Regions from separate parts of the Homo sapiens genome. Here regions 2, 3 and 4 are each linked to region 1. The links come from fine-mapping of genetic effects on gene expression. A gene starts in region 1. Each other region holds a variant in brackets. All regions are shown on one strand. Distances are between the middles of the regions.

What was found. PIP is the estimated chance that this variant, and not a neighbour inherited with it, causes the effect.
Region 2: its variant is fine-mapped to the expression of HOMER2 in prefrontal cortex (ROSMAP, PIP 0.95).
Region 3: its variant is fine-mapped to the expression of HOMER2 in whole blood (INTERVAL, PIP above 0.99).
Region 4: its variant is fine-mapped to the expression of HOMER2 in thyroid (GTEx, PIP above 0.99).

The regions. Positions count from the first base shown.
Region 1 is chr15:82,949,150-82,957,257 of GRCh38, reverse strand. HOMER2 (homer scaffold protein 2) reads left to right here and starts at 4,538. Exons shown (of 9, transcript NM_004839.4): 1 at 4,538-4,727. The coding sequence starts at 4,723. RefSeq lists an enhancer at 4,788-5,288.
Region 2 is chr15:82,723,692-82,731,799 of GRCh38, reverse strand. It overlaps the pseudogene ACTG1P17. Among named protein-coding and RNA genes, the nearest start is that of AP3B2, 18 kb to the right of the region's middle. The variant A/TAA (reference allele first, on the strand shown) is at 3,661.
Region 3 is chr15:82,968,991-82,977,098 of GRCh38, reverse strand. It overlaps a transcript of HOMER2 not described here. Among named protein-coding and RNA genes, the nearest start is that of RAMAC, 13 kb to the left of the region's middle. The variant T/A (reference allele first, on the strand shown) is at 4,067.
Region 4 is chr15:82,876,497-82,884,604 of GRCh38, reverse strand. The region is part of intron 2 of HOMER2 (homer scaffold protein 2); the gene reads left to right. Among named protein-coding and RNA genes, the nearest start is that of WHAMM, 71 kb to the right of the region's middle. The variant A/G (reference allele first, on the strand shown) is at 3,645.

The DNA of each region.
Region 1 (8,108 bases):
GCCCGTGCTAGAGTGCAGTGACACAGTATCTTGGCTCACTGCAACCTCTGCCTCCTGGGTTCAAGTGATTCTCCTGCCTCAGCCTCCCGAGTAGCTGGGATTACAGGCATGTGCCACCATGCCCAGCTAATTTTTATATTTTCAGTAGAGACAGGGTTTCACCATGTTGGTCAGGCTGGTCTTGAACTCCTGACCTCAGGTGATCTACCCGGCTCAGCCTCCCAAAGTGCTAGGATTACAGGTGTGTGCCACCACACCTGTTCTCATTCACTCTTCTTAATAGTCCAAAGAGATATCGCCACTTCGTAGATTAGAGCGCTGAGGCTCAGAGAAGTTAAAAACTTGCCCGTGGTCACAGATAGTCAATGGTAGATCCAGGACTTAATGCAGGTCTGAGTCTAATACTGATGCCTTTACCCTATATTCCTTCTGCCATCCTAATAAACTTTTTCATTTTCTATACTCCAGGCCTTGTCCATATTTTCTAATTTTACATAATTATACTCATAGCACAGCTGTAATTCAGATTATTTTACAAACTTAACTTTATATCCTAATACACATCCCATCCACCAAGTCTTATTGAGTCTACCTCTAAAATATCTATAATCTGTAATCCACTTCCCTTCATCTCCACCCTTATCTTTTGTCTAGAGCCTCTTAACCAGTCTCCATGTTTTACTCTTGTCCCCTTCTTATCCCCTCTTCTCCCAGGAGTGAGTGATATTTTAACAATATAAACCAGATCACGGCATTCCCCAACCCATCAGTGGGTTCTCACTGCATTTGAATAAATTGCAAATCCTTAATCCAGCCAAAGGGCCCTGCATACTTCACCCATGCTTTGCTAAGCTCACTGCACTCTAACCACACTGGCCTTCTCCCAGCTCTTCAGAACAGCATGATTCTCTACCACCTCAGGGCCGTTGCAGTTTCCTCTGCTTGGAACCCTCCCCTCATGCTCCCCATGACTGATGCTTCTTTGTCTTCAAGCCTCTTCTTTTTTTTTTTTTTTTTTGAGATGGAGTCTCAATCTGTCACCCAGGCTGGAGTGCAGTGATGCAATCTCAGCTCACTGCAACCTCTGCCTCCTGAGTTCAAGTGATTCTCCTGCCTCAGCCTCCTAATTAGCTGGGATTACAGGCATGTACCACCATGCCTGGCTAGGTTTTGTATTTTTAGTAAAGATGGGGTTTTGCCATGTTGGCCAGGCTGGTCTTGAACTCCTGGCCTCAAGTGATCTGCCTGCCTTGGCCTCCCAAAGTGCTGGGACTACAGTCATGAGCCACCACACCCAGCCATCAGGCCTCTTTTTAAATGTCTCTTCAACAGGCCATTCCTGACCATCCTCCTCAACCTAAATTAGGTCTCCTATTCACACAGATCGTAGCTTATATATTTGTGTGATTATTTGATTAATACCATTCACACAATCTTATAGTCCTATGACAGAAGGACGTCTGTTTTGCTGAGCACTTTATGCCCAACACAGTACCAGATACACAGCAGGTGATCAACATTTATTGAAAGAATAAATATATTTCTATGTTACTATATAGGCTTCACAAATATAATGTAATAGCTGCATAATACCCGACAGTTATCCCTTTAATTAATGGCTTTAATAATACATTTGTTTCATATGCAGTTGAAAGAACTGACCTTTTATGGTTAGAAAAAAAAATGTTTGAAGTCCCTGGACCAGCCATACCAGAAATCTGAGCACACTAATAACAACATTATGCATGTACATGGTGAGCCTAATTTTGCTGTTGAAAGTAAAAATACAGGCCGGGCATGGTGGCTCACGCCTATAATCCCAGCACTTTGGGAGGCCGAGGCAGGCGGATCACAAGGTCTGGAGATCGAGACCATCCTAGCTAACATGGTGAAACCCCATCTCTACTAAAACTACAAAAAAGTAGCCAGGTGTGGTGGCATGCGCTTGTAGCCCCAGCTACTCGGGAGGCTGAGGCAGGAGAATTGCATGAACCCAGGAGGCAGAAGTTGCAGTGAGCCAAGATTGCGCCACTGCACTCCAGCCTGGGCAACAGAGTGAGACTCCGTCTCAAAAAAAAAAAAAAAAGAAAAAGAAAAAGAAAGTAAAAATACGTAGATTATAGGTTTTGAAATCAATTTAGTAGGTTATGAGCAGTACTGCTTTTAAAAATAGAACAGAATGGGCCGGGCACGGTGGCACACGCCTGTAATCCCAGCACTTTGGGAGGCTGAGGTGGGCCGATCACGAGGTCAAGAGATGGAGACCATCCTGGCCAACATGGTGAAATCCTGTCTCTACTAAAAATACAAAAATTAGCTGGGGTGGTGGTGCGCGCCTGTAGTCCCAGCTACTTGGGAGGCTGAGGCAGGAGAATCGCTTGAACCTGGGAGGCGGAGGTTGTGGTGCCCTGAGATCATGCCACTGCACTCCAGCCTGGTGACAGAGCAACACTCTGTCTCAACAACAACAACAACAAAACAGAATGATGTCTGAATGCCTGCCTGGCAAGTGAGAGGATAAACATTGTTTTATATAACTTTTTGTTTCTATTTTATATCGATATACCTATAGACATAGTATGTATGTGCTGAAGTATGTACCAGGTTGCAGGTTGTAGTGTAAAATATATTTCTTACTGTGGATTGTAGTTTAAAAAAATGAAAAACTCGGCCAGGCACGGTGGCTCATGCCTGTAGTCCCAGCCCTTTGGGAGGCCGAGGCGGGTGGATCACGAGGTCAGGAGATCGAAACATGGTGAAACCCTGTCTCTACTAAAAATACAAAAAAAAAAAAAAACTGGGCGTGGTGGCATGCGCCTGCAGTCGCAGCTACTGGGGAGGCTGAGGCAGTAGAATCGCTTGAATCTGGGAGGTGGGGGTTGCAGTGAGCCGAGATCACGCCACTGCCACTGCACTCTAGCCTGGGTGAGCAGAGTGAGACTCCGTCTCAAAAAAAAAATAATAAAAATAAAATAAAAATGAAAAACTCTGATTTCAGTGGCTTGCCTTTGAAGTTATTCGAACACTTCAGAATCCTCAGGTATTACCTGATAAATGACTTGTTCAGTGTTCTACAAGCTCACTTTCCTGATATTGCTGATTACTATGCATGGAGGATTTGGAAACTCCCAAGATTATTTTATTTTTTACAAACTTATTTTGTATTTATTTATTTATTTTTTTGAGACAGTCTGGCTCTTTTCACCAGGCTAGAGTGCAGTGGCATGATCTCGGCTCGCTGCAACCCCTGCCTCCTGGGTTCAAGCGATTCTCCTGCATCAAGCCTCCCGAGTAGCTGGGAGTAGCTGGGACTACAGGAGCACGCCACCACACCCGGCTATTTATGTATTTAATTAATTAATTTATTTATTTTTTGAGACGGAGTCTCGCTCTGTTGCCCAGGCTGGAGTGCAGTGGTGCGATCTCGGCTCACTACAAGATCCGCCTTCCAGGTTCACGCGATTCTTGTGCGTCAGCCTCCGGAGTAGCTGGGACTACAGGCGCCTGTCTCCACGCCCGGCTAATTTTTTTTGTGTGTGTGTATTTTTAGTAGAGACGGGGTTTCACCGTGTTAGCCAGGATGGCCTCGATCTCCAGACCTCGTGATTCGCCCGCCTCGGCCTCCCAAAGTGCTGGGATTACAGGCGTGAGCCACCGCGCCCGACCTGTCCCTTGACTTTTTTACTGTCCTGAGATGCCAGGCTTATGTGGGCGGTGTGTTCCCAGCAGAAGATGATCCCGTGGAAGTCCCGGGGGATGAAGGTTAGGTTAGTCCCAGTGCCAGCCTTTGGTAGAAACTCAGGACCTGATAGGTAGAAAGGCGACGAAGAGAGCCTGCTCTTCTTCAAGTTCTACTTTTGCCATCCTAATTCCCCTCGCTCTAAGGATAAAACCAAGCTTGATGAAGCCGCCTTAAAACTGCCCCTTCAAGTGGGAGCCCTCATCTCATTTTTATCCAGGAAAGAGCCCAGAGCATCTGCCGCGGCCTGTAGGCTCTTCTCTGCCAGGCTGGCTTCCGAAATTTCACGGTGGCGGGTACCTTAAGGCCACTCGGCCGGGCAACTGGCAGGAAGATGAAGGTGGGCTTTAAGGAGGAGCACAGCTATGCCCATCTCAGACTCTGGAGACCCGAACGAACTCTAATCTGAATGTGTGACCTTGGGCAAATCACTTACCCTCCCCAGGCCTCGGTTCCCTTATCTGCAAAGTAAAGGTAGCCCTAAAGTCCCCGCCAGGTGTGAATGGGACTTTAAGTCCATCAGGCAGGATGTTGATGGCACTGCGCCAGGGCCCCGGGTCGGCGTGGGGCGGGGGCGCGCCAACGCGGGGCCGGCACCGAGGACTGGGTGGCCCGGGAGAAAAGCGGCGACTGCGCGGCTGCGCGGGGGACGGTGCACACAGTGCTGCGCCCCCCGCCTCTTGGCTCGCTGCCGCGGCCCGGGGGCCACGAGGTTACGTAAGGAGCCGGGCGGGGGTAGCGGCTGGGGAGGGCGGGGCGGGCACCGCCCCAGCGCGGCCGCCCAGCCCCCGCCCGCCCGCGCCTGGCGGCGGTGGCGGCAGTGGCAGCAGTGGCAGCCGCGCAGCCCCGCGGAATGGAGCGGCGCCGGGGCTGAGCCGGGCGCGCACGGGCCGCCGCATGTGCCGCGCGGGGAGCGGCTGCCGAGCGGGCGGAGAGCGAGCGCGAGAGGCCCCGTCGGAGCGGCCGCCGGAGCAGCGCCGGAGATGGGGTGAGTGAGCCCGCGCCGCGCGCTCTCCGCGCGCCCCTCCGGAGGGACTGCGGGGCCGCGGCTGGCGTAACCGGGCTCGGAGCCTCCCGGCGGGCCGGCCCCCGCCTCCCCAAGCCGGAGCGAGCGCACACTCTGCGCCCGGGAGTCTGGGGCCACCTGACCCGCGCCCTCCGCCGGGGCACGCGGACACCCAGCAGGGGCACCCTGGCCTGGGCGCGGAGCCCGTGGCCCTTCCCCTCCCATACAGCCCGGGCACGGGGGCACCTGACGGGGACCGGTGCCCTGGCCGGCCTCCTGCCTCGGCCATTCCGCGGTCTCTTCGCCCCTGGGCGCAGTCAACTCCAGGGCCTGTGTGAGTCTAAGCAGTTTGTCGTTCTCCACGTTTGGATTTATTACAAGCAAAATGGAAATCGAAGTTTTCCTGGAAATAATCAAATAATAATAAACCTCCAGCGTAGGAATAGTGGACTTTGGATCTGCTTTGAGATGCTGAAGATGATGGAAGTCTATAAGGAACCTAGGTGAGGCTTCAGTCTTTGAAACAACTGAGTAGATGCTCAGGAGGGAAGTTGAAATACTCTGTCGAAGTGACTAATGCTTCTGAGTATATAAAGTAATTTAAGCTTTCCCCTCGGCGTCTCTCTGAGCAGTAGGCTCTGTGAGTCTGGGAGCCACTGTGCTAATAGCACAATAACTCCTTACATCTGCTCACTCTATTTGGGCACACGTTGACGGTTTGCCATACGTATTCAGGGGACACTTATGTCCACTTTACAGATGAGGAAACTGAGGCACAAAGTGGTTCGGTGACTTCCCCCAGGCTGTGTAGTTGATGAGCATTTGTGTAGCAGGGGTGGCCTTGCCACTGCCTGACGTGGGCATGGAGGCGGGTAAGTGAACCAGAATTCCTAAATCTCTCTGTTCCCTGCTGCTGAACCCAGCATTCTTCCAACAGCCCTTCGCAGGACTCAAATGCTTCTGCTCCAAGGGTCTAGAGATCTTGCTTTCCTGTTTGGGATGGGTGGGGCCTGGGAAGGCAAGAGTGCAGTGGAAGGAGCAAGATTGTCCTGGTGCCCTGGCTCAGCCCCCCTGGGTCAGTGGCTTTCTTGCACCGTACTCCAGGTTAAGTTTCTGGAGTCATTTTGCCTGGTGAGTCTTAGCCATGGGAGCTGCAGAGTGTGTGAGGGGATCAGAGGCAGGCCAAGAGGAATTTTGAGGAATGGAAGTGTGAGGGCTGTGGGCCAACATGAACTGGACATGACAGAGGTGGGTGACAGAGAGGAGGAGGCGAGATGAGCAGCGAGGGCTGAAGAAGTGTGCTTACATTTAGGAGATTTCACATGAACAGCAACTGTGGGTGATTTTACCCAGAGGCACCCAAGTTGGCAGGCCGTATTTCTGTAACATTTCCAGTGAGTCCTCAGTGGACTGTGAAAAGGCTGATCTTTGAGCAGTGAGAGCCTTTGAGGTTCTCAGATTTCATACTTTAAAAAAATGTACAGGGAAAAAGGAGTTGGCAAATGTAAGGTCTCAGAATGGAAGATAAAAGGGATCCGGTAATTTTAACTCTCTTTCTGGCCCTCCCTCCCCCTGGCCAACACAAAACCAATCCACCGTACTTGTGTGATCAAAAACAAGTACTGAAACTCTGTGGTTGAGATCAAATAGTTCTGTGGAAATGAAAATGTTTACTCACTCATAAAACCTTAAAGAAAATGTCAAAAAATAATTTTTGTTTGTGGAGAAGCAGGGAGGAGACGCTTGGGGATTTTGTTTAAACACAGAATATGTCTTTCATGTAATTTTAACATCATTCGATAAATGTATATATTACTCACTTCTCGTAGATAAAGGCTGGTTTGTAACTCCTACCTACCTCTGCCATTTTTAATAGATCCATGTCTTCTATTATTTATGTGAAAATACAAGCCATGGTCGTAAATTGAGATGCAGCTAAGGGCTGGGGAAGCAATTCAGACAGGAGGGTGGAGGGAGCCGTTTTAACTGAAAATAGAACCAATGTCATCCTTTCTGAGAGTTGTGTAGGATGGAGGGGGAAGAACTTTTTGAAAGGGCAGCTAGTAGAAAACCTTGCTGCGATCCTACAGCTTCGTCATGGCTCTGCTGTGTAGACAGGACTAGGATTTAAGGGAAAAAAAAACAAACTATCTGAGTTTACCTCCCCCCAACTTGAGATGCTTCTCCTCCCTCAAATGTTCACTACCATTTTCCACTTCTCTTCTGCGAAGTGTTCTGTGTTAAGTGTGGCCTCTCCAGTGAGTTTGTGTTCTTACTCCCTAAGGCAACTATTTCATACCTATTCCCCTTTCCAGACCTCTCCCCTTCCTAGGCACACCCCGTGGCTTCCCTTTCAATTGACAAGATAGGCACCTTTGACCAAGGGAATGTCTTCATTTTGCCACCACCTAGTCTAGTATGCAGCTGCTGCTACCTTCTCCTACCTGCCTGCTGTGCTGGATGACCTGTCCCTCATCTCTTCCTACTAGGGGCCCCTTCTTCTGGGGTAGCCTCCATTCCATCCCTTCCTCCTCCCATCTTTTCAGAGATTGTCTCTCCTTCCTAACCACCTTTCTCTCCGGGGTCTTCTCCATCAGTATAGGAGCATACATCTGACCAACAGAACTTTCTGCACTGCTGGAAATGTTCTGTATCTGCGTGGCAGCCACCAGCACATGTGGTTATTGGACACTTGAAATGTGGTTGTTGAGACTGAGGACCTGAATTTTTAACTTAATCTAAATTTAAATAGCCACATGTAGCTAGTGGCCACCATATTGGATAGCATAGCTTTAGTTGCTCTCATCTTAAAAAGGAGATCTCCCTCCCTCCTACATCCCTCTCCTGTTTCACTTCTTTGCTCTTCTTCACCTGAAAACACCTCAGAAGATACATCCAAACCCACTGGCTCCATTCACTTTCTCCTGCCATTTGTTCACTCTCCATACTCTACAGTCTTGCTTCTGCCTCACCTCTGCACCAAAACTGCCAGGGTCTTGGGTGACCAGGGGGTTGCCAGATCTCAGCCTCACCTCACTTCACCTCTCTCAGCAGCATTCCTAACAAATGACCACTCCCTCTCCTCAAAACAACACCCCTCTCAGCTCCTCTGGCCCCACTGTTTCCTGCTTTTCTTCTTACTCCTAATCATGGGGTTGCCCAGGGACTGGTCCTGGTTCCTTTTCTCTGTCCACACTGTCTTCCTAGGTAATACTGTCCCACCTGCAACTCCTCCCCACCCTCCCATGGCTTCAAATGCCATCGATATGCCCATGATGCCCACACTTTAATTTCTAGCTCAGATCTTTCTTGGAGCTTCTGACTCTCGTCAATACATGGAGCTCTTGATATGCCTTCCAGCTC
Region 2 (8,108 bases), 230 kb after region 1:
CTATTCCTTTCCCCTCTGATCTCCAATGCCCCCTCTGTCATATCAAGCTTGCATATGTGTGGGTCTGCTTCTAGGACCTCTAATTTGTTCTATCAATCATTTTGTTTAATTTTGAACCAATACCAGAGTATCGTAATTACTATAGCTTTGTCATAATGATACAGGAGGTAGAAAGAAATTACTTAGGCAGATAGTGAGGTCAGCAGAGTCTTCAGCAGAGCTTCCAGTCTAACAAAAAGCCCAAGAATCTTTTTTTTTTTTTTTTTTGAGACGGAGTCTCGCTCTGTCGCCCAGGCTGGAGTGCAGTGGCTCAATCTTGGCTCACTGCAAGCTCCGCCTGCCGGGTTCACGCCATTCTCCTGCCTCAGCCTCCCGAGTAGCTGGGACTACAGGCGCCCACCACCACGCCTGACTAATTTTTGTATTTTTAGTAGAGACGGGGTTTCTCCTTGTTAGCCAGGATGGTCTCGATCTCCTGACCTTGTGATCCGCCTGCCTTGGCCTCCCAAAGTGCTGGGATTACAGGCGTGAGCCACCGCACCCAGCCAAGAATCATTTTTTTCCTAACAAAGAGCAGCCTGACAAATCAAGCTGCAAACATAAATAAGGAAGCTAGAGGCTTGCTGGGGGAATGCCGACAGCTGTGCCAATAGAAAAGGGCTACCTGGGGACCAGGCATGTCCACCCTGGAGGTTTCATCTTCCCTTTTTTTGTTACCATGTGTACAGTAATAGATAAATGGGCAACATGGCACAGCTCAGGCAGAGAACCAGCCAGCATAATAGAAGATTAGGGTGGGGGCTACCAGAAATTCGTGCCCTATGCAAATGGCACACCTGATATAACCAGTTTTTTGCACCCTAGGTAAATCAGACACCGCCTATTCACCAGCTCATCTATAAAACCCCCTGCATTTCACCGCAGAACTGGAACCTATTTTACCAGGACCCCTCTCTGCAGCAGAGAGCTCTTCTCTTTCTTTCGCCTATTAAACTTCCACTCTTAACCTCATTATTTGTGTGTCCTTGTTCTTGTTCTCCATGGCCGTGGGACAACGAACCTTGAGTGTTACTCCAGAAAACGAGGCTGTTTCAATAAGACTAGATAGTTGATAGAATAAATCCTCCCACCTTACTCTTCAAGAGTGTCTTGGCCACTCTTGGCCCTTTGCTCTTTTATTTGCATGTTAGAATCTATCAAGCTCCTGGCCAGGCACGGTTGCTGATGCCTCCCGGGTTCAAGCAGTTCTCCTGCCTTAGCCTCCTGAGTAGCTTTGCAGGTGCCCGTCACCACACCCGGCTAATTTTTGTATTTTTAGTAGTGACAGGCTTTCACTATGTTGGCCAGATTGATCTTGAACTCCTGACCTCATGATCCACCTGCCTTGGCCTCCCAAAGTGTTGGGATTACAGGTGTGAGCCACCGCACCCGGCCAGCTGTTTTTAAACATAGGGTTGTTATCATTTGGCAGGAGAGCAGCAGGTGCAGCATATAGGCCACATCCTCACTCCCATGATAACAAGCCACTTCAGCCCCTGATTGACTGCTGGTCGGGTCTCGGTTTCAGCCAATCCTTCACGGTGTAGCCAATTGGAGGCCTCTACAGGGCATCAAGGGGTGTTGCTAGGTTCCTTTAGCTTAATAAAAACCGTAATTGAGAAGGCTCTTGAGCTGCTTGCAGGAGCCCACTCCTACTCTGCGAATTGTCTTTAATAAACCTGTGCTTTCGCTCTTTCCTTGCTCCGTTCTTTTGTTACTTTGTCCAATTCTTTTTTTTTTTTAATTTTTTTTTTGAGACGGAGTCTTGCTCTGTCACCCGGGCTGGAGTGCAGTGACACGATCTTGGCTCACTGCAGCCTCTGCCCCCCCAGGTTCCAGCGATTCTCCTGCCTCAGCCTCCTGGGTAGCTGGGATGACAGGCACACGCCACCACCCCTGGCTAATTTTTGTATTTTTAGTAGAGATGGGGTTTCGTCGTGTTGGCCAGGCTGGTCTCAAACTCCTGACCTCAGATGATCCACCCACCTCGGCCTCCCAAAGTGCTGGGATTACAGGTGTGAGTCACTGTGCCTGGCCTTGTTCAATTCTTTGTTCAACACACCAAGAACCTCAACAACTCTATCCAGTAACAATACCTTTTCCACTCAAATCCCCAAACATTCTAAATATGAGTGTTCAGATGTTCCCATACTTGTGTGAGAAGATCCAGGATAGTGATCAGTTCTCTATTTTTCCCGTTGGGACCTCAGACCCACAAATAAAAGCACATGTGGGAATTCCATAGAAGATCACTAAAGGTTCTCCCAAGTTCAACACAGATGAACAAATCCATTTGGACATATATACATTCATGGTTACATATAGAGGAAAATGCATTCTCTTTTGAAGAGGCCAGATAATGGTAATAATCTGTGATATGACACAACTTTAGAGGAAAATTTGTTCTTAATTGCTTAGTCCCTGTTGCTTGGTTGGGAAGGGAGGCATCTGTAGCATTCCCCTGGAGGTAGGAATCAACTATGGAATCAACAGTCCAGAACAGAGGGATAGACAGGTAGGTCCTCTATGCTTTTCCTAGGCTCTAGGAAGCATCAGTAAGTGAAAAACCAGTTTAGCTGGATGCTATAAGAGAAGTCCTGTGTTACTATTGGGGAAGATTGATATGATAATGGCAAGAAAGATAGTGGTGATGACCTTCCTGATTTGAAGATCTCTACATGTATTCTCTCAGAATGGTCCTAAAGAGAGGTAAGAAATGATACCTTATGAGAAACTGTCAGGACTGAAACTTCATGAAGACGTGTGTCCTGCTCTCTCCACAGCCCCATCAGCCAAACAGACTGAAGTTCGTCTGTGTTGTTACCCACAGGGTTCAACTGCAGAACAGCTGAGTTGTGTGTCCTTTGAACCTTAAAGTTAAGACCCTTAACAGTCATTCTAAAATGGTTGTCTGTACTCTTCTTTTGAGAGGATCAAATAAATCAATATTATAGCACTTTGAAAGAGTCTGAAGTGGTGTTATTTACCAGTGAACATGAATCAAGAACTAGAGTGGAAGAAACCTTAATCCTTAACCTACTTAAGTTAGGAAGGAAGATCGGAAAGGATGGCTAGGAACAACCCAACTCAAAGGATACTCAAGTGTCAATCACTCTTTTATGTCCCTTCTTTTGTCAATCACCTCAATCACTCTTTTATGTCCTCTTCTTTTTGTTCTTCCCACCACTGCCTTAATGAACACATTCGTCATTTAATTATGCATTTGCCCTCATCCAGCAACCCTAAAAAAACTTGCTTTCTCTGTTTCCAGTTTATCTTTTATACTGGCCCCTCGTTATTCTTTCAAACATATCTAGGCCAGGCGCAGTGGCTCACGCCTGTAATACCAGCACTTTGGGAGGCCAAGGTGGGCGGATCACATGAGGTTAGGAGTTCGAGACCAGCCTGGCCAACGTGGTCTCTACAGAAATACAAAAAAATTAGCTGGCCATGATGGTGGGTGCCTGTAATCCCAGCTACTCGGGAGGCTGAGGCAGGAGGATCGCTTGAACCTGGGAGCCGGAGGTTGCAGTGAGCCGAGATCGTGCCATTGCACTCCAGCCTGGGTGACAAGAGTTGAGACTCCATCTCAAAAAAAAAAAAACTATATATATATATATA[A/TAA]TTACACAATTTCTATGGCTTAGACACCTTTATTGGCTCCTTAGGGAACTGCAGGATGGATTAAGTTATCTCCGTGGTATATAAAGTCCCTTCCACTCATATTTCAACCTTATTAAATATTCTGTAAGAAGCAAATATTAACATATAATGGATGCAATCAATAGAGACAAAGCCACATACAAGAAACAATACCTGATTATTAGCTAATCAAGTCTATAAATATCATGAATGGAGGCCAATAACACAAGCTCTAGGGTAACTACCTAGCAGAGCTGGGGACCTTGGGCGGTTGCTTAGCCTTTCTTAATAGGGTCTTCATCTGTAAAATGGGGATACTTTTAGCAGATGATTTTCCACACTATACTCAAACTCATAGAGTAAAAATAAAAATCTCTTTTCCAATAGTTAAGCCCCACACAGCTGAATCAACAATGCCATGTCTCAACATATTGGCTCCTGAGGCAAATAAAAAAATGTGTGCACCATACACTTTGTAATATATTCTTAAATTGTTGCTTTTTTCAGAACGCGGAAGTGGTTGAAAAATACAGAAAAACTGAAAAGTGTATTAAAACTCACAATGTTATTTAACCATTTTATTTATACCAAAATAGAATAATGTATTACAATTTTAGGTAAAAATTATTTAAATTTCTCCCTGGCTGGTGCCAGACCACACTCGACATTGTCTCATCATTTCCCCGACAGATCACAATGGAAGCAGAAATCACCTTGCTCATTGTTGACAATAGCTTTGCCATGTGCAAGTCTGCCTTTGCTGGGGACAATGCCCTCAAGTCATGTTCCTCTCCATTGTCAGGCACCCCTGGCACCAGGGCATGATGGTGGGCAGGGGCTAGGACTCCTATGTGGGCGATGAGGCCCAGAGCAAGCAGCATCCTGATCCTGAAGCACCCCATGGAGCAGGCCTCATCACCAACTGGGACCACATGGGGAAGATCTAGCACCATACCTTCCGCAATGGGCTGCACGTGGCCCCTAAGGAGCAACTGGTGCTGCTGACCGAGGCCCCCGAGCCCCAAGGCCAACAGAGAGAAGATGATTCAGATCATGTTTGGGGCCTTCAACACCCCAGTCAAGTACAGGGCCATTCAGGTCACCCTGTCCCTGCATGCCTCTGTCAGTGCCATTGGCACCATGGGGGACTCAGGCGATGGGGTCACCCACACTTGCCCATCTCCAAGGATACAGCCACCCTCTCCCAGTCATCCTGTGTTTGGCCCTGGCTGGCCGGGACCTGGCCGACTACGTGGTGAAGATCCTCGAGGGGCCCGCTACAGCTTCATCACCACAGTGAAGTGGGGGATTGTGCGTGACATCCAGGAAAAGCTATGCTGTGTTGCCTTGGACTTGCAGCAGGAGATGGCCACTGCCGTGTCCTCTTCCTTCCTGGAGAAGAGCTACAAGCTCTCCCACAGCCTGGTGGTCACCATCAGCAATGAGTGGTTCTGGTGTCCAGAGGCGCTGTCCCAGCCCTCCTTCCTGGGCATGGAATCTTGCTGCATCCAGGAGACCATCTTGACCTCCATCATGAAGTGTGATGTGGATATCTGCAAGGACCTGTACACCAATGTGGTGCTGTCTGGCAGCATTGCCATGCACCCAAGTATCACACACAGGATGTAGAAGGAGATCACTGCCCCAGCACCCAGGACCATGAAGATCAAGATCATGGCTGTCTCTGAGCACAAGTATTCCATGTGGATCAGCAGCTCCATCCTGGCCTCACTGTCCACCTTCCAGCCAATGTGGATCAGCAAGCGGGAGTGCCACCAGTCAGGCCCCTCCACTGTTCACCGCAAATGCTTCTAAATGGACTGTGATGAGATACGTAGCCTGTGCTGCCTGAGTCAATTCAGAAGTACAAATTTGTCCCTGGAAAATGTATACATCTCATGCTAGCCTTAGGAAACTGGAATAAGCCTTTGAAAAGAAATTTGTCAGGCTGGGTGCAGTGGCTCATGCCTGTAATCCCAGCACTTTTGGAGGCCCAGGCGGGCGGATCACCTGAGGTCGGGAGTTTGAGACCAGCCTGACCAACATGGAGAAACCCCGTCTCTACTAAAAATACAAAATTAGCCGAGCATAGTGGCACATGCCTGTAATCCCAGCTACTCGGGAGGCTGAGGCAGGAGAATCGCTTAAACCTGGGAGGCAGAGGTGAGCTGAGATCGCGTCATTGCACTCCAGCCTGGGCAACAAGAGTGAAACTCCGTCTCAAAAAAAAAAAAAAAAAAAAGAAAAGAAATTTGTCCTTGAAGCTTGTATCTGATGTCAGCACTGGATTGTAGGATTTGTTGCTGATTTTGACCTTGTACTGAAGTTAAATGTTCCCTTGGTATTTAATACCTTGTACTTATCTTTGATTTAAACCCTTAGTACATGTGGCTTAGTCACTTCATGGCAGAGGTGAGAACATGCTTGTGGAAGAGAAGTCCGTGGCTTGGTGATTCTGCCTGACCTGCAGTCTCTCCATCTGTGCAGGGTACTAATGTGTCGGAGCTCAGGGTTCCAGAATTCGTCTAGAGACCGGCAGGAGCTCCTCCACCAGTTGTCATTTCTGTCTTGCCCGTCTGTCAGGGTTGGAAAAGTCCAAACCTTAGGACCCAGTTTCCTTTCTTTCCTGATGTTTTCCTGCCAGGACACCGGTAGGCTGTTACTTGCCTTGAGCTGGAAGAAGTTTGCATTTACACTGTAAATGTATTCATTGTTTTAATTGATGTAAGGTTTTTATGTACAATTCTTAATTCTTTAAGAGATGACAACAAATTTTGGTTTTCTTTTTTTTTTTCTGTGGCTAATCTATTTTTAACCACAATCCCAAGATAATTCAGTGGGGGAAAAGACCATTTCTATAAATGATGCTGGGACAACTGGATATCTACATGCAAAAGAATGAAGTTGGATGCCTACCTCACACCACATAAAAAATTAACTCGAAGTAGATCAAAGGCCTAAAAGTAAGAACTAAAACTAGAAGCTCTTAGGAGAAAACGTAGGTATACATCTTTGTGACTTTAAAGTAGGCAAGTTTCTCAAATATAACATCAAAAGCAAAGCATTGGCAGGGCGTGGTGGCTCACCCCTGTAATCCCAGCATTTTGGGAGGCCAAAGCAGGTGAATCACTTAAAGTCAGGAGTTTGAGACCAGCCTGGCCAACATGGTGAAACCCTGTCTCTATTAAAAATACAAAAATTAGTTGGGCGTGGTGGTCATAGTCTCAGCTACTCAGGAGGCTGAGACACAAGAATCGCTTGAACTGGGAAGTGGAGGTTGCAGTGAGCCGAGATTGCACCACTGCACTCCAGCCTGGGAGACAGAGTGAGATTTCGTCTAAAAAAAAAAAAAAGAAAGATCTACAAATGGCCAATAGGCACATGAAAAGATACTCGACATCATTACTCATCAGGGAAATGCAAACCCAAACCACAATGAAATATTACTTCACAGTTGCTAGAATGGCCATAATAAAAAATACAGATAAAAACAAGAATTGGTGAGGATGTAGAGAAACTGAAACATTGCTCATGGAAATGTAAAATGGTGCAGTTGCTTTGGCAAGTTTCTTTAAAAAGTTAAGCAGAATTTTCATATGACCCAGCAACTGCACTCCTAGGCATATACTCAAGAGAAGTGAAAACATATGTTCAAACAAAAACTTGTACATGAATTGTCATAGTACCATTATTTATAATATTCAAACAGTGGAAACAATCCAAATGCCTATCAACTGATGAATGGATAAACAAAATGTATATACATAAAATGGAATATTATATGTTCATTAAAAGGAATGAAGGCAAGGCGCAGTGGTTCATGCCTGTAATCCCAGTATTTTGGGAGGGTGAGGTGAGAGGACTGTTTGAGCCAGGAGTTTTGAGACCAGCCTGGCTAACACAGTGAGACCCTGTCTCTATTAAAAAAAAAAAAAAATAGCTGGGTATGGTGGCATGTGCCTGTGATCCTAGCTACTTGGGAGGCTGAGGTGGGAGGATTGTGTGAGCCTGGGATGTCAAGGCTGCAGTGAGATGTGATCATGCCACTGTACTCCAGCCTGGGCAACAGCAAGACCCTGTCTCAAAAAAGAAAAAAAAGGAATGAAGTACTGGTACATGGTACAACATGGATGAATCTTGAAAACATGCTCAATGAAAGAAACCAGTCACAAAAGGCCATACATTATATAATTCCATTTATACAAAGTGTCCATAATAGATAAATTCATAGAGACAAAAAGCAGATTTGTGGTTATTAGGAGAGGAGAGAATAGGGGAGTGACTGCCTAATGAATATGAGATATTTTTGGAGGGTGATGAAAATGTTCTGGAATTAGATAGTAGTGATGGGGCCAGGTGAGGTGGCTCATGCCTGTAATCCCAGCACTTTAGGAGGCCAAGGTAGGTGGACAACCTGAGGTCAGGAGTTC
Region 3 (8,108 bases), 20 kb before region 1:
TCAGGTATAATCCTAATCTAAAGATTCTTAGGATTTTTTTTCACCCCACAAACATTGCTATACAATATATTTCTGGGCTTAGTGTTGGAGGAGTGAGGAGAGTTAAAAAAAAATGTGGAACACAGCTGGGCACGGTAGCTCACGCCTGTAATCCCAGCACTTTGGGAGGCCGAGGGGGGCAGATCACCTGAGGTCAGGAGCTTGAGACCAGCCTGGGCAACATGGTGAAACCCCGTCTCTACTAAAAGTACAAAATCAGCCAGGCATGGTGGCGCATGCCTGTAATCCCAGCTACTTGGGAGGCTGAGGCAGAATTGCTTGAACCCTGGAGGCAGAGGTTGCAGTAAGCCAAGATCACGCCATTGTACTCCAGCCTGGGCAACAAGAGCAAAACTCTGTCTCAAAAAAAAAAAAAAAAAACCACACACAAATCTTAAGATCTAATCGTACTAATTGTAGAGTCAACCAGAAGATAGTTATGATGGTAATATATGCAGTATATAAAATAGTGTGGCCTCATGCCTGTAATCCTAGCACTTTGGGAAGCCGAGGCGGGTGGATCACCTGAGGTCAGGAGTTCGAGACCAGCCTGGCCAACAATGGCAAAACCCTGTGTCTACCAAAAATACAAAAATTAGCTGGGTGTGGTGGTGGGTGACTGTAATCCCAACTACTTGGGAGGCTAAGGCAGGAGCATCGCTTGAACCCGGGGTGCGGAGGTTGCAATGAGCTGAGATTGCACCACTGCACTCCAGCCTGGGCGACAGAGCGGACTCCGTCTCAAAAATAAATAAATAAATAAATAAATAAATAGTGCATGATAATCTAATGGGATGCAGGGAGAGATAATTGCAACTAGATATATAAGTATAGAGGTACTTCAGGGTAAAGGAAGAATAAGAGGAAAGTGAAATTAACCCTGAGAAATTTACTGAAGAAGGTGATTCTGCAACAAGCATATACACGGAGTGCGTGCACACACACACTATGTGGATTGCCAGAAGTGAGCTCCTGTGAGGAATATGGATTCTTGGGTGCAGAGGATGCAGACTGACCATTCTTTTTAAATTTATTTTATTTAAAATTTTTTTAATTTTAATTTATATGGGTTCATGGTGTATATATTTATGGGACACAGGAGATGCTTTGATACCGGCACACAATGCGAAATAAGAACATCATGGAGAATGGGGTATCTATCCCCTCAAGCATTTATCCTTTGTGTTACAAACAATCCAATTACACTCTTAGTTATTTTCAAATGTATGATTAAGTTATTATTTACTGTAGTCACTCTGTTGTGCTATCAAATAGTAGGTCTTACTCATTCTATTTTTGTTGTACTATTTAACTATCCCCACCTTCCTACCATGCCACTACCCTTCTTAGCCTCTGGTAATCATCCTTCTACTCTTTATCTCCATGAGTTCAATTGTTGTGATTTTTAGATCCTACAAGTAAGTGAGAACATGCAATGTTTGTCTTTCTGTGCCTGGCTTATTTCACTTAATGTAATGACCTCCTGTTCCATCTATGGTGTTGCAAATGACAGGACCTCATTCTTTTTTTACGGCTGAATAGTACTCCATTGTGTATATGTACCACACTTTGTTTATCCAATTGTCTGTTGATAGACACTTAGATTGCTTCCAAATTTTAGCTATTGTGAACCGTGCTGCAGCAAACATGAGAGTGTAGATATCTCTGATATGCTGATTTCCTTTCTTTTGGGTATATACCTAGCAGTGGGATTGCTGGATCATATGGTAGCTCTGTTTTTAGTTTTTTGAGGAACCTCCAAAATGTTCTCTATAGTGGTTGTACTAATTTACCTTCCCACCAACAATGTATGAGGCTTCCCTTTTCTCCACATCCTCACCAGCATTTATTGCCTGTCTTTTGGATATAAACCATTTTAACTGGGGTGAGATGATACCTCATTGTAGTTCTGATCTGCATTTCTCTGGTGATCAGTGATGTTGAGCACCTTTTCATATGCCTGTTTGCCATTTGTGTGTCTTTTTTTTCTTTTTGAGACAGTCTCTCTGTTGCCCAGGCTGGAGTGCAGTGGTGCAATCTTGGCTCACTGCAATCTCTGCCACCTGGGTTCACGTGATTCTCCTGCCTCAGCCTCCCGAGTAGCTGGGATTACAGGCGCCCACCACCACGCCCAGCTAATTTTTGTATGTTTAGTAGAGACAGGGTTTCACCATGTTGGCCAGGCTGGTGTCGAACTCCTGACCTCAGGCGATCCACCTGCCTCGGCCTCCCGAAGTGCTGGGATTACTGGTATGAGCCACCACGCCTGGCCTGTATGTCTTCTTTTAAGAAATGTCGGCTAGGCACAGTGGCTCACAGTGGGTCCTAATTCTCTTGTAGAATACTCTTCAGAGACAGACTCCAAGACTGCTGCATTTCCCTGTGGGGTGACTCACAGAGCTCTTTACTAGTCTTCTCTCCCAAGTGCCCCCAGGGAGCCCCTGTGCAATATCATCCCAGTCATATTTGGAATATGAACTGTGACCCTTACCTAGGGAAATATGTCTCTCTCCTCAGATTAGAGCATATTCATTCTAATTAGACATTGTCGTGTATTGACTCTGTTTTCACCATGGTAGGTAGAAGTCTGCCCCTCCCATAGGTGAGTGGAGAACCTTTGCTCTATGGAGACCTTTAGTATTTTTTTTTTTTTTTGAGATAGAGTTTTGCTCTTGTTGCCCAGGCGGGAGTGCAATGGCGCGATCTCGGCTCACTGCAACCTCCACCTCCCGGGTTCAAGCTGTTCTCCTGCCTCAGCCTCCCGAGTGGCTGGGACTACAGACACGTGCCACCACGGCTGGCTAATTTTGTATTTTTAGTAGAGATGGGTTTTCTCCATGTTGGTCATGCTGGTCTCGAACTCCTGACCTCAGGTGATCCACCCGCCTCTGCCTCCCAAAGTGCTGGGATTACAGGTGTGAGCTACCACGGCTGGCTGATCTTTAGTATTTTTAAGTGGGAAGGACATTGGCTTAATTTTTTCACCCAGGCTGGAGTGCAGTGGCACGATCTCTGTGCACTGCAACCTCTGCATCCTGGGTTCAAGTGACCCTCGTGCCTCAGACTCCTGGGCTCAAGTGATTCTCCTGCCTCAGCCTCCCGAGTAGCTGGGATTACAGGTGTGCACCACCATGCCTGGCTAATTTTTGTATTTTTAGTAGAGACAGTGTTTCAGCATGTTGACCACGCTGGTCTTGAACTTCTGGCCTCATGTGATCCGCCCACCTCAGCCTCCCAAAGTGCTGGAATTACAGGCATGAGCCACCATGCCTGGCCAGACATTGGCTTTAGATGGATGCAGATGACCTGAGTGACTTTGCTGAGATTCTTCTCTGAGCCTCAGTTTCCTGATTCCAAAATGAGATTATAATGATTTTATGAACTATGATGTGTTTTCTATAGCCTAGATGATAAGCATTAACAAACAGTTGCACTGTTTTCCAAACCAAAATAAAACACTCTAACTTGGCTTGAGAAGGGAGAGGTTCTAATACAAACATTTTGTCATTGTCCTATGAAAACAACCATGTTAAAATATGAAGACTACTAGCGCTACCATTATGTAGTAAATACCGAGCATTTACTACATGCCAGGCACTGGGCAGAGCTTTATATTTATATTTACTCATTCTCACAACAACCTACCTGGCTACATATTATCCCTCTCTTACAATCCAGGCTTACAGATGACGGGCAGTTATGATAAGCAAGCAGGAGAAATGAGATTTAAAGCCAGTTCTTTTTTCAAAGCCTGTGCCCTGCCCATGGAAGGGATAACTCAGGAACCTACAGAAAAACATATTTGAGGCATATTTCTGAGACATAGGAGCTGGATGGCAGGGTGGTCAAGATTGCTCTGTGGTGAGAGACTAGAATGCAGATGTTTTGTGGTTTTGATTGAAGCAAGGTCTGTTTGCTTTCATATTAGACACTGCTGTAGCCAGAAGTTGGAGCCTGTCAGGGTTCAAGAGACAACCTGGACACAGTTTATAGTTCCTTTTACTTTGACTTATTCCTGAAGCTGGAG[T/A]AGAGCAGTGCAAGATATAAATGAGACAAGGAGGCAGGGAGGCTCCCTGTTGCCTGCCTCTTTTGTACCTCATGGAGGTATACTCCGAATTTAATGATTCTTGAGAACTCACAGAGAGTAAGATGTCCACCAGATCCAAAGCATGTAGAACTGTGGGCTCACTGCTTAGCACCCAGATACAACTTTTACCTCCATATAAAGCATTTTGTTACTCAGAAGGCCACGTCACCTGCGGTTATTATCCATATCTGAGGCTTTGAAATTCCTGCTGTGCCAGCACTTGAGGCAATCTCCATTTTCTTGTACCTCTACTGCAGTGCCTAAGAATTTTCTTTCTTTCTTTTTTTTTTAAGGCAGAGTTTTGCTCTCGTTGCCTAGGCTGGAGTGCAGTGGCGCCATCTCAGCTCACTGCAACCTCCACCTGGGAGGCCCAGGTGGGCAGATCACCTGAGGTCAGGAGTTGGAGACCAGCCTGACCAACATGGACAAACCACATCTCTACTAAAAATACAAAATATTAGCCAGGTGTGGTGGCACATGCCTGTAATCCAGCTACTCAGGAGGCTGAGGCAGGAGAAGAATTTTCTATTTATTTCCACTCGGGTGCTTTCCATGGCCGACGTGGCCATGGCCTGCAACAGACACACCAGCATAAAGTTGCATTCTATTGTAAAACTTTAAGAACATAATTTGTATTCTTAGCCAGAAGGGCACCCCACCTTCAGGTAGAGGTGCAGGAGTTCTTGGATGGTTAAGGCCAAAATTTTCTTCAAAAAAGAAGCTCTGATAGAGACATAAAGCAGATTTGTGATTGCCTGGGTTAGGGTAGGATAGGGATTGACTACAAATGAGCATTAAGGATCTTTTTGGGCTAATGGAAACATTCTGAAACTACATAGGGGTGATGGCTGCACACTCCATAAATGTGCTACAAATCATGAATTGTACACTTACAATGGGTGAATTTTATGGTAGGTAAATTATACCTAAGAGCAAAAGAAGGAAGGGAGGACGCTAGCAAGCTAGCTCGAATATACAACCTTGAAGCACTTGGTTGAAACCCCAGGATAATATGGCACAGAGAATAGAAGAGGAGATTTAGGCCTGGAAAACCTTAAGGGCAGGAGTTAATGATTAAAATCTTAGTGTCCAGACATCTACCTTTGAGTAGTCTGTGTCCTGATGTACCTCTTGGAAAGATGACAGTCATAATATTACTATTGGCTGTGGCAGAAATAGCTAGTTCCCTCCCCCACCCCCATATCAGTTCTGTTCTGTCCTTGCACAGTAAAGGAAGGGTTTTGAAGCACTGGCCCAGAACTGGACTGATTTTAGCACAGTCAGAGATTAATGGCAAGAGCCATAGTTTCTTGCTTCCAAGAATCCTCTAAAATCTATTTAAAATTTTAAATAAATTCTCCACTGTAAGGTTGTTGCATCTAAAGAGAAATGTCAAAGTGAAGCTGGCTATCCATCCAGGCTGGATAGTGACACAATTACTAAAATTTATTTGAAAATGGTGTCAAAGTAGAAAAAAAAATGATACCCTTAGCAGCTCTGCCTCCTCAACAGCTTCTGTTTATCTTTCTCTGTGTCTGTGTGTGTGTGTGTGTGTGTATGTATCTGTCTCTCTTGCTCTCTCTCTCGCTATCTCTCTCTCTCTCACCTGATTCAGAATTCTTGAGAAAGGATAGGAATCACCAATGTTAGAAACGAGCCATGCCCCAGTGCCCTGTGGAAGTTAGGACTACAGGAAGGAGCACATGAGCTTCCTCTTCCCTACCCCCCATAATTTTACTTACCTGCACCTATGGCACGATCCAGAGCCCAATCTTTAGCTGAAAACATCCAGAAATCCAGAGCTGCTCATTATCAAGAATTGGGTTACGTTAACCAAGCTCATGATGTTCTCAGTAAACAGGTGCCCGTGTATTAATTTACAATGAGGAATACATCTTCCCTTTGAATGGACTGTTTTCTTCCCATCAATAATTCAGGGAGTCCCTTCCTTATGTCTGGGTATCCAGGAGTTACCAGGGGCCATGGACTATGGCTTTTCACCTCTGTGTCCTCAGCACAGGCTCTGGAACACAGCTGGTGATTAACAAATATCTGCCAAAGGGAATTGAATTTTGCCAGCGATAAGGCTTATTTATCTTGGGCCATTTTTAGACAAACAGGAGCTGGAGATATTTTTACCCACATATTATTGTAGTCAAAGGCTGTTTCTTAGCCACAACATCCATGCAAAACACAGCATGGCAAGAAGAGGCCATTTTTTTTCTTACACAGCTGACTCCATTTGAAAGAAATTTTATCTCAGAGGATTTACCTAGCAAGATATCAATCTACTTCGTTTTGTTTGTTCTCTTTTCCTTTACATTCGACATGAATGCTATAAAGGATTCTACTATGGCACAGGTAATAATAGCAAACACAACTATAGAGTCTCCACTGCCCATCCTTGAAATAGATTATTCAGTAGAAGAAGAGCAGTGCTGTCATTTACTGAGTTGTATGGGAAGTAAGGATCAAAACCAAAGATAAAAAAAGAATTATGAGTCAGTGGAGTCCAATTTAGCCTTGATGGTAATGTGAGGCATGTTATTAGGTCCATTTTCAGGGAAGATTACATTGTTTGGAAGGAAGTGTCCTATCCATTTTTCAGAGCCCTGGTGATAAAATCACTGGCGATAAGAAACCTCTCTCAGGCCCCAAAACATAGGCCTCTCCTTCTCTTGGGCCCTCTCAAATTATCTGCTGATCTAGATACTCCTAATAGTCCCCAAGCCCTGCTGACAGCTCTGTCCTCCCCCTGCCTCAGGCAAGAAAAGTTTCTGGTCAGGTTGAGGAGGTCTTGCTCAAAATTCTTCTCATTCTGCATACTCTGCATGTGCAATTGTATCTATTCCTATGGCTTCAGCTACCACCTATAAGCTGGATGGAGCCTTTGCCCCTCACTTACCATGTATGATCCTCACAGTGTTTAGGCATGAGTTATTTTCCACATGATAATCCTCTTTCACCGCCATCAGATATCCTAGGTCTCTTTTCATCCAGCTGTTGTGTTCGTTTCAGTTAAACAAACATTTATTCCATGGGTGTGGCAGGCATCTTCTGTAGTTGTTGAGGATACAAAGGTTCTATTTAAGTTAATTTTCCTCTATTTCATTTATAGAGTTTTTTATTTTTATTTTTACTATCCAGTAATTGTTGGAATTTCTAAAGTGTTAACTTTCAGTTACTGTTCTCTTTCTATCCCTGCATCTTCCCTAAGTTTATTACTATGGTTTCAATTTCATAAAGATAATTTTCAAATAAAACGTCTGGCTCCATGTCTTACCTATCTCATTTACTGTATGCACTTAGATGTCTCTTCGTCTCTTTAAGTAAACATTTATTGTAGCTTTAGTTCCTGGATCTCTAAAATGCAGAAGTGAATGAGGAGTGTTCCTTGGTCAGTAGGTGTATGTGAACCTACCCACAAAGGCTGAGGGAGCTTAGAGGACGAAGAAAGAGGCTGACAAACCCAGCTTCTCAGAGGGAAACATTTCATAGGGACTTATGAACAGAAGTGATGTCTAGGCAGCCATAAGAATCGTAGATCCCCGCATCCGCCCTTTATAAATAGCAAGCTTTTAGGGTAAAGACGTGCAGCTAGTCATGTCTTCAGACTTTCTTCCAAGATTCATGACCACTGGGGAGGTTAGGTAAGCATCTTTATGAGGGTTTATCTGTGTACAGCGTTGCTTCAAGACCTTACTGCAGAATACCTTTGTGTGTGGAGATCAAACATCATGGCAGTTTCGCCCCAAGATGGTGTGACTCTTGCCATGCAGTAGGCTGTTTTCCTACAGGAAGCTATTAAGTTATGGTGTATCGATGCAGTGCAGTTTTAAGCAGCTATTTAACATGCTTACAAACAACTATGGATAATTCTTCTGCTTCTCTATCCACTTTCTGAATTTCCTCAATGAGAATCCCTTTTCTAATCAGAAAAAACATGAGAGGACATAAGTGATGTGATCAATTATGTCTTAGA
Region 4 (8,108 bases), 73 kb after region 1:
ACCTCTTCAAGGAGAACTACAAACCACTGCTCAAGGAAATAAAAGAGGAGACAAACAAATGGAAGAACATTCCATGCTCATGGGTAGGAAGAATCAATATCGTGAAAATGGCCATACTGCCCAAGGTAATTTACAGATTCAATGCCATCCCCATCAAGCTACCAATGACTTTCTTCACAGAATTGGAAAAAACTACTTTAAAGTTCATATGGAACCAAAAAAGAGCCCGCATTGCCAAGTCAATCCTAAGCCAAAAGAACAAAGCTGGAGGCATCACACTACCTGACTTCAAACTATACTACAAGGCTACAGTAACCAAAACAGCATGGTACTGGTACCAAAACAGAGATATAGATCAATGGAACAGAACAGAGCCCTCAGAAATAACGCCGCATATCTACAACTATCTGATCTTTGACAAACCTGAGAAAAACAAGCAATGGGGAAAGGATTCCCTATTTAATAAATGGTGCTGGGAAAACTGGCTAGCCATATGTAGAAAGCTGAAACTGGATCCCTTCCTTACACCTTATACAAAAATCAATTCAAGATGGATTAAAGATTTAAACGTTAAACCTAAAACCATAAAAACCCTAGAAGAAAACCTAGGCATTACCATTCAGGACATAGGCGTGGGCAAGGACTTCATGTCCAAAACACCAAAAGCAATGGCAACAAAAGACAAAATTGACAAATGGGATCTAATTAAACTAAAGAGCTTCTGCACAGCAAAAGAAACTACCATCAGAGTGAACAGGCAACCTACAACATGGGAGAAAATTTTTGCAACCTACTCATCTGACAAAGGGCTAATATCCAGAATCTACAATGAACTCAAACAAATTTACAAGAAAAAAACAAACAACCCCATCAAAAAGTGGGCGAAGGACATGAACAGACACTTCTCAAAAGAAGACATTTATGCAGCCAAAAAACACATGAAGAAATGCTCATCATCACTGGCCATCAGAGAAATGCAAATCAAAACCACTATGAGATATCATCTCACACCAGTTAGAATGGCAATCATTAAAAAGTCAGGAAACAACAGGTGCTGGAGAGGATGTGGAGAAATAGGAACACTTTTACACTGTTGGTGGGACTGTAAACTAGTTCAACCATTGTGGAAGTCAGTGTGGCGATTCCTCAGGGATCTAGAACTAGAAATACCACTTGACCCAGCCATCCCATTACTGGGTATATACCCAAATGAGTATAAATCATGCTGCTATAAAGACACATGCACACGTATGTTTATTGCGGCACTATTCACAATAGCAAAGACTTGGAACCAACCCAAATGTCCAACAATGATAGACTGGATTAAGAAAATGTGGCACATATACACCATGGAATACTATGCAGCCATAAAAAATGATGAGTTCATATCCTTTGTAGGGACATGGATGAAATTGGAAACCATCATTCTCAGTAAACTATCGCAAGAACAAAAAACCAAACACCGCATATTCTCACTCATAGGTGGGAATTGAACAATGAGATCACATGGACACAGGAAGGGGAATATCACACTCTGGGGACTGTGGTGGGGTCGGGGGATGGGGGAGGGATAGCATTGGGAGATATACCTAATGCTAGATGACACATTAGTGGGTGCAGCGCACCAGCATGGCACATGTATACATATGTAACTAACCTGCACAATGTGCACATGTACCCTAAAACTTAGAGTATAATAAAAAAAAAAAAAAAAAAAAAAAAAGCAGTGGCTGGTGTAGAATGGACTCAGCTCATTTTGAGCAAACGCCACATCAGATTCAGCTTCTGTGTAAACTGTGGGCAGCCAAAGAGCACAGGCTCTTTGAGAAGGAAAGCTGTGGCCAACAGCTTCAGCAGCTGTCATTCCATGCCAGGCACAGCCAGCTCCTCTGCCCTGTCCAAGCATGTGTCACGCTCTACCTGGGGAGGGATGCATGGACAGCCTCTCCTCCTTCTGGAAGCAGTTGGTGCTACTCATCTCAGGAAGATCTGTACTCAGACCTGTTCTTTATTCTTAAAACACGAAGACATTTCCTTCTTCCCCGGGACAATGTTTCATGTGTCAGTTCCAGCTGTTGTCTAAAGACATGAGTGGGTGGGAAAACTTCAGTGTGTTGCCTCAGCATTGCCCAAGCTCTAGGGGATTATGTGGATCCATGTCAGTGTTGGGGCTGCCAGGAGACTGTGAGCTCTTTGAGGATGGCAGCCATGCCTGGCTCATCTTTGGAGTCCTAGCACCAAGCCAGGGTGGGCAACGCCATAGAAGGGGGTGGGGGAATGAGTGGATGATGAGGTCAGGCCTGGCCACCTTCTCTCCAGGCCTGTGGCAGGTGTACTGTGTCCACAGAAGGACAGCAGGGTCACTGCCAAGGGGGGACCCAAGGACCCAAACCTTGGGTTGTCCCTGTTTATAGACACTGGACAGATGGGAGCCACATGAGGGCATCTCCCCACTCCCAGCTTCTCAGAGCACTGCTATAAACCATGTGGCACATGCCAATAGGCATGTGATTTATGGTGAGTTTTTAGGCAGAACGGCCAACTCCATTATAAAGAAACTCCATTTTCAGAGCATTGGTTAATTGAGCCATCACAGCACTTGATTTCATTGTGCTGTTGGCACTCTTTCCAGACTGAGTTAATCACTGCCATCCTTATGAGAAACTGCCTGCCTGTGGACAAGACTTGCCTGAAGCAGGTGCTTCTCCTGGGAGCTCTGGATGACTCTGCTGCCCTTGGTTCTCAGTTATTTTATAGGATCACAGAAACCTGTATTGGAAGAGACCTTAGAGGTCATCCATTCTACAAATATTTAGCCACACCTGTTGTGTTGCGAGTGCTGCCTGATTGTGATGGTTCAGAGGATATCAGTATCCAAAACTCTGACTTATTTGGTATTTTCTTTTGGAAATGTAAAATTACTTTCAGGAACACATTCAGGCTCTGCTCGTCCACTCCTCATTAGAATTCACTCCTTTGAATAAATACAGAGCACCTTCTGTTAAGGGAGCAAGCATAAGGAAGGTTCCGAGCACACAGTAGGTTTTCAGTGAATATTTCTTTTCTTCGCTGTCTGTGATTTGTTGTTGTTGTTTTAAATTTTTAAAAAGCACCTGTTAATAACTACTCTTGGAGCAGGCAACATGTCTTTTTATTGCTGTAACTCAGTCACAGCCTCTTATGGAAAACTCCCAGGTTCATCCAACTTCATCTCCCTGGATTTGGGAAAGACTTCTCATGAAAGGAATCCGATGGGCCTGTCTCCCCCTGCCTGTTTCATGAGCAGCTTCCTCTGAAATCCAGAGCAGGTGAGACTGGAGACAGGAGAAACTTAGCATTTTGCTGCTTCCAAGCAGCTCTTGATTACCTGTGTTTTGTGCATTTTGTGACAACTTGGTCCCACTGATCTGCAGGACTGGGTCTTTTACTAGGGTGGCTTCTTTCTCTGTGAAAGTTTTAGAGATGACTCACGCAAGAAGAAGGTGTACACAGAGATGGGAGCCTGTATGAAGCTTATGCCTGGGGTGCTTTAGCACAGCCCCTTCTCCCTTCTGGGCTTTGGTTCCTTCCCCCAGGTCCGTTCTCCCCTCTCTCCAGGGGTAAACAGTTCTCATTCTGCTAAGTCATTCTGCCGCATTGAGGGC[A/G]CTCAGCTGTGCCCTCATCCTTCACACACTCACCCTTGGCTCCCAGGGCTGAATTCTTCCTTGGTTGCTGGCCACCTGTGGCACGTGTACTGCCAACTCCTTCACCTGCTCTTCCTTGGTTGCTTCCTTAAGTCAGCCTTCTGCCCTGGGCCTCTCTTCTTTTCTTCCACCAGATGACACTCTCCACCCGGTGACCCCTTTACTTCTCATCCCCCAGTTTACTCAAGTCTCGTATCTCCTCTGACGCCAGAACCCACAGGTCCAGCCACCTCCTCGGTCCCTAACACAATCTTCCAGTGTCTCCATGGGCGGGAAGGATACTACCTGCTGTTTTCATAAGCCTCTGCCCACTCTGAAGATTAGCCTCCCTAACAACTTTGTTATGGGTTTGTAGACTTTATTTTTAACCATTTGTATTAATAGGTACCATTCAATGTCTAATAATAAAGCAAACCCATATGTACCCACCACCCAGTGGAAGTACGTCTTTCATTAATACCTCAGAAGTCCTTCAATGGGCCTTTCCCTAATTAGATGCTCTCCCATCCACTCCTCAAGAGATCACCACTCTATTAAGAGTGTATTAAGCATTCCCTTGCTTTTCTGCATAGTTTTGCCACATGTGTATATATCGCTAAACCAGAAGTTGGCAAACTTTTTCTCTAAGGGTCAGAGAGTAATTTTTAAAAAAGTTTTTTATTCAGGTTGTACAGTCTCTGCTGCAGATATTTGACTCTTTTGTAGCCAGAAAGCAGCCATAGACCAATATGTAAATGAATGGGCATGGCTGTCTTCCAATAAAACTTTAATTACAAAAACAGGCCATAGGCTAGATTTGGCCTGAGGGTTATAGTTTGCTGACCCCTGCCCTAAATAATCTGTTATTCAGTTTTACCTGTTTTTGACCTTTATATGAATAGAATCATACTAGAGACTCATAATGTATGTGTTCTTTTGTAACTTCCTTCTTTTTTTTTAATGTTAAATTTTTGTGATTCATCCATGCTGATCAATTTGGTTAGCCTTGGTTAATTTTCCTGCTGGATTAGTATTTCATTGTATGGAAATACTGCAGTGTATTTATCCATTCTGTTGGTAGTGGACATTGTTTTTGCAAGTTCTACTGTAGGTAAAATGCTGTCAAGTAGCATTGCATGCTACAGAGAAATCTTTTGTGAAAGGAAAAATCAACCAATGCAGCAAATATTGTTGTCTTATTTTAAGAAATTGACACAATGACTCCACCCTTCAGCAACCACCACCCTGATCAGTCAGCAACCATCAGGATCGACACAAGTCCCTCCATCAGCAAAAAGATTACAATTTGCTGAAGGTTCAGATGGTCCTTAGCATTTTTTAGCAATAAAATATTTTAAAATTAAGGTATGCAGATTGTTTTTATTTTTTAAGACAATGCTATTGCAAACTATGATTTCTTTATTTTCTTTCTTTCTTTTTTCTTAGAGGTAGGGTCTCACTTTTGTCACCCAGGCTAGAGTACAGTGGCACGATCACGGCTCACTGCAGCCTTGACCTCCGGAGCCCCAGGTAATCCTCCTGCCTCAGCCCCCTGAGTAGCTGGGACTATAGGTGCACAGCACCATGCCCTGCTAATTTTTGTATTTTTAGTCGAGATGGGGTTTTGCCATGTTGTCCAGGCTGGTCTCGAACTCTTGGGCTCGAGCAATCCATCTGCCTTTGCCTCCCAAAGTGCTGGGATTACAGGCATGAGCCTGCAAACTACGATTAATATATTCAAGGAAACAGAGGGAAAATGGACAAAATAGATGAAAGGAAGGAGAATACTCCCAGAGTCTTAGAATTTTTTTTGAAAGAGCCAAATGGACATTCTAGAACTAAAAAATAACAATGTCTGAAATTAAGATAACAATGGATAGATTTAACAGCAGATTGGAGACATCAGTGGCCAGGATTAGTGACCTGGAAAGCAGATTAATAGAAAATACCCAAATAGAATCAGAGAGTACCAAGAATCAGGGAAAAATAATTGATGAGTGTAAAAAATATTGTGCATGGCCAGCATGGTGGCTCCTGTCTATAATCCCAGCATTCGGAAGGCTGAGGCAGATGGATTGGTTGAGCCCAGGAGTTTGAGATCAGCCAGGGCAACATGGCGAAACCCCATCTGTACAAGAAATACAAAAATTAGCTGGGCATGGTGGTGCACACCTGTAATCCCAGCTACTTGGGAGGCTGAGACGGGAGGATCACTTTAGCCCAGGAGGTCGAGGCTGCAGTGAGCCATGTTTGTGCCACTTCACTCTAGCCTGGGCAACAGAGCAAGACCCTATCTCAAAGAAAAATGAAAGACCTAGCATGTCTGTAATTGGAGTCCCAGAAGTAGAAGCAAGGAGAGAGAATAGAGCGGAAGCAATATTCATGGAGAGAATGAGAATTTTCTAAAAACTGATGAGTCTACAGATTTAAGAAGCTGAATGAACCTCCAGCCATCGTAAATAGACTTAGCTCTAGAAATCAGTCCGTTGTTGCTTTGTAAGTAAGACATACATTATATTCTTTTTAGCCACTTATTAGTTTTATGACCTTGAACAGGTCCCTTGACCTTGTTAAGCCTCAGTTTCGCCATCTGAAAAAAATGGGGGTTAAAGACTGTGAAAAAGTGCCCTAGAAACTAAGTTTTAAGGAAATAGCAGGGGGTATCACCATTGTTATTCTAGCTTGACTGCCTCTGGGATAGCCTGTATGGGGTGAGCTTAAGAGCCATATCCTATACTCTGGCCAGCCTCTTTCCACTGCCTTTCAAGGAGACTTGGGGTGTGGTGACTGACCTAGGGGCATAGGCCTGCAGTGAAGTAGCAGCAAGATTTAAAGTGAATCCAGTTTCTGAATGGATGTAGTCATTGCTTTGTCCTCCCAGGATTCTGGTAATTGAGAGATGACCAGGGTTGGCTTTCTGGGGTCACGTGATCCATCCTGATCCAGCTCCCAGCCACACACCTTCCTTAGGTCTGTCTTGGTTCCACCATATCCACCCTGCTTGGGGCTGAGCCAGAATCCCCCCACCCTCCAAGGTCCCATAGCTTTCCCCTACACTTGCCAGTAGTTTAGATCTCCATTTTCCACGCCCTGCTTCCCTGCCCCCATCTCTTGATAGTGTCCAGTGACAGTAGACAGATCTCTTGACTTCTCATGTTGCATTCAGTTTTCCAGATGGAAAACATTTGGTAAAATGTCCTGACTCAGATGGACATTGGCATTATGGAAGGGTTATTATAAAGAAAGGAAAAGTCAGCTGGACCGTAGCACATGAACATCAGTACTTCATAGATGGGGAAAAGAAGAGGGGCAGTAATGTTTCCTTCATCGTGTATAAAATGAGAAGCAACATGATATGGAAGTTTATAGGACAAGTCTTGGAGTCAGACAACTGGGTTTTTATCTCTAGAGTCTCCTACTGGCCAGCTTTAATGTGTTACCTTAAGCAAGTTAGTTTAACCTTTCCCAAATCTCAGCCAGGTGCGGTGGTTCACGACTGTAATCCCACACTTTGGGAGGCCAAGGCGGGCGGATCACCTGAGGTCAGGAGTTTGAGACCAGCCTGGCCAACATGATGAAGCCCCTTCTCTACTAAAAATACAAAAATTTGTCGGGTGTGGTGGCGGTCACCTGTAATTCCAGCTACTCAGGAGACTGAGGCAGGAGAATCGCTTGAACCTAGGAGGTGGAGGTTGCAGTGAGCCTTGATCATGCCATTGTACTCCAGCCTGGGTGACAGAGCAAGACTCTGTCTCAAAAAAATCAAACAAACAAACAAAAAAACTTTCCCAAATCTCAGTTACTTCTGTGAAATGAAGGAATAGTCGTATGCATAGGCTCGTTGTAAGGTTTAAGTGAACTAATATAAATGAGGCACTCAATAAGTGTTCAACAAATAGTAATTGCTGTTGTTAGTATTCTAAAAATTATTTTACCAGCTAAGCTAAGGTTTTCTCTTGAGCCAGTGGCTTATCAGCAAACTCAATAGTCTGATAGATAGATAAATGTAGATCTAGCAAGAGCAATGATACTTCTGTTACTACTGACAGCTGTCACTTACTGTCTAGATCCCTTTAGTTAAGGCAACGGTTTGTATCTGGAAGGTCTGTCCTTTAGCAAAAGAGTAGACTCAGGTTCCTACCACAGAAAGCAAGCCCTATGCCATTCAAACTTTTTTTGTCTTCTCTGTTTTATCAGTTACAAGGAAAGTGTTCTGAGTTGACCATTGAGAATAAACAACCTTAGTAAGTAAAATTGCTGGTAGGTTCACTCTTTAGAATACTTACTTAGATTGCTCTTATTCCCTGTTCAGATCATCTGATGGGGAAGCAGCCAGTGGTTATTGCTACCCTGCCCTTACATAGACACCCAGTAATCCTTTATTTCCAAGAGTATTTTTCCTGAGTGTTTCTTAGAGTCCTAGGGCTTGCAATGATTTCTACTGAA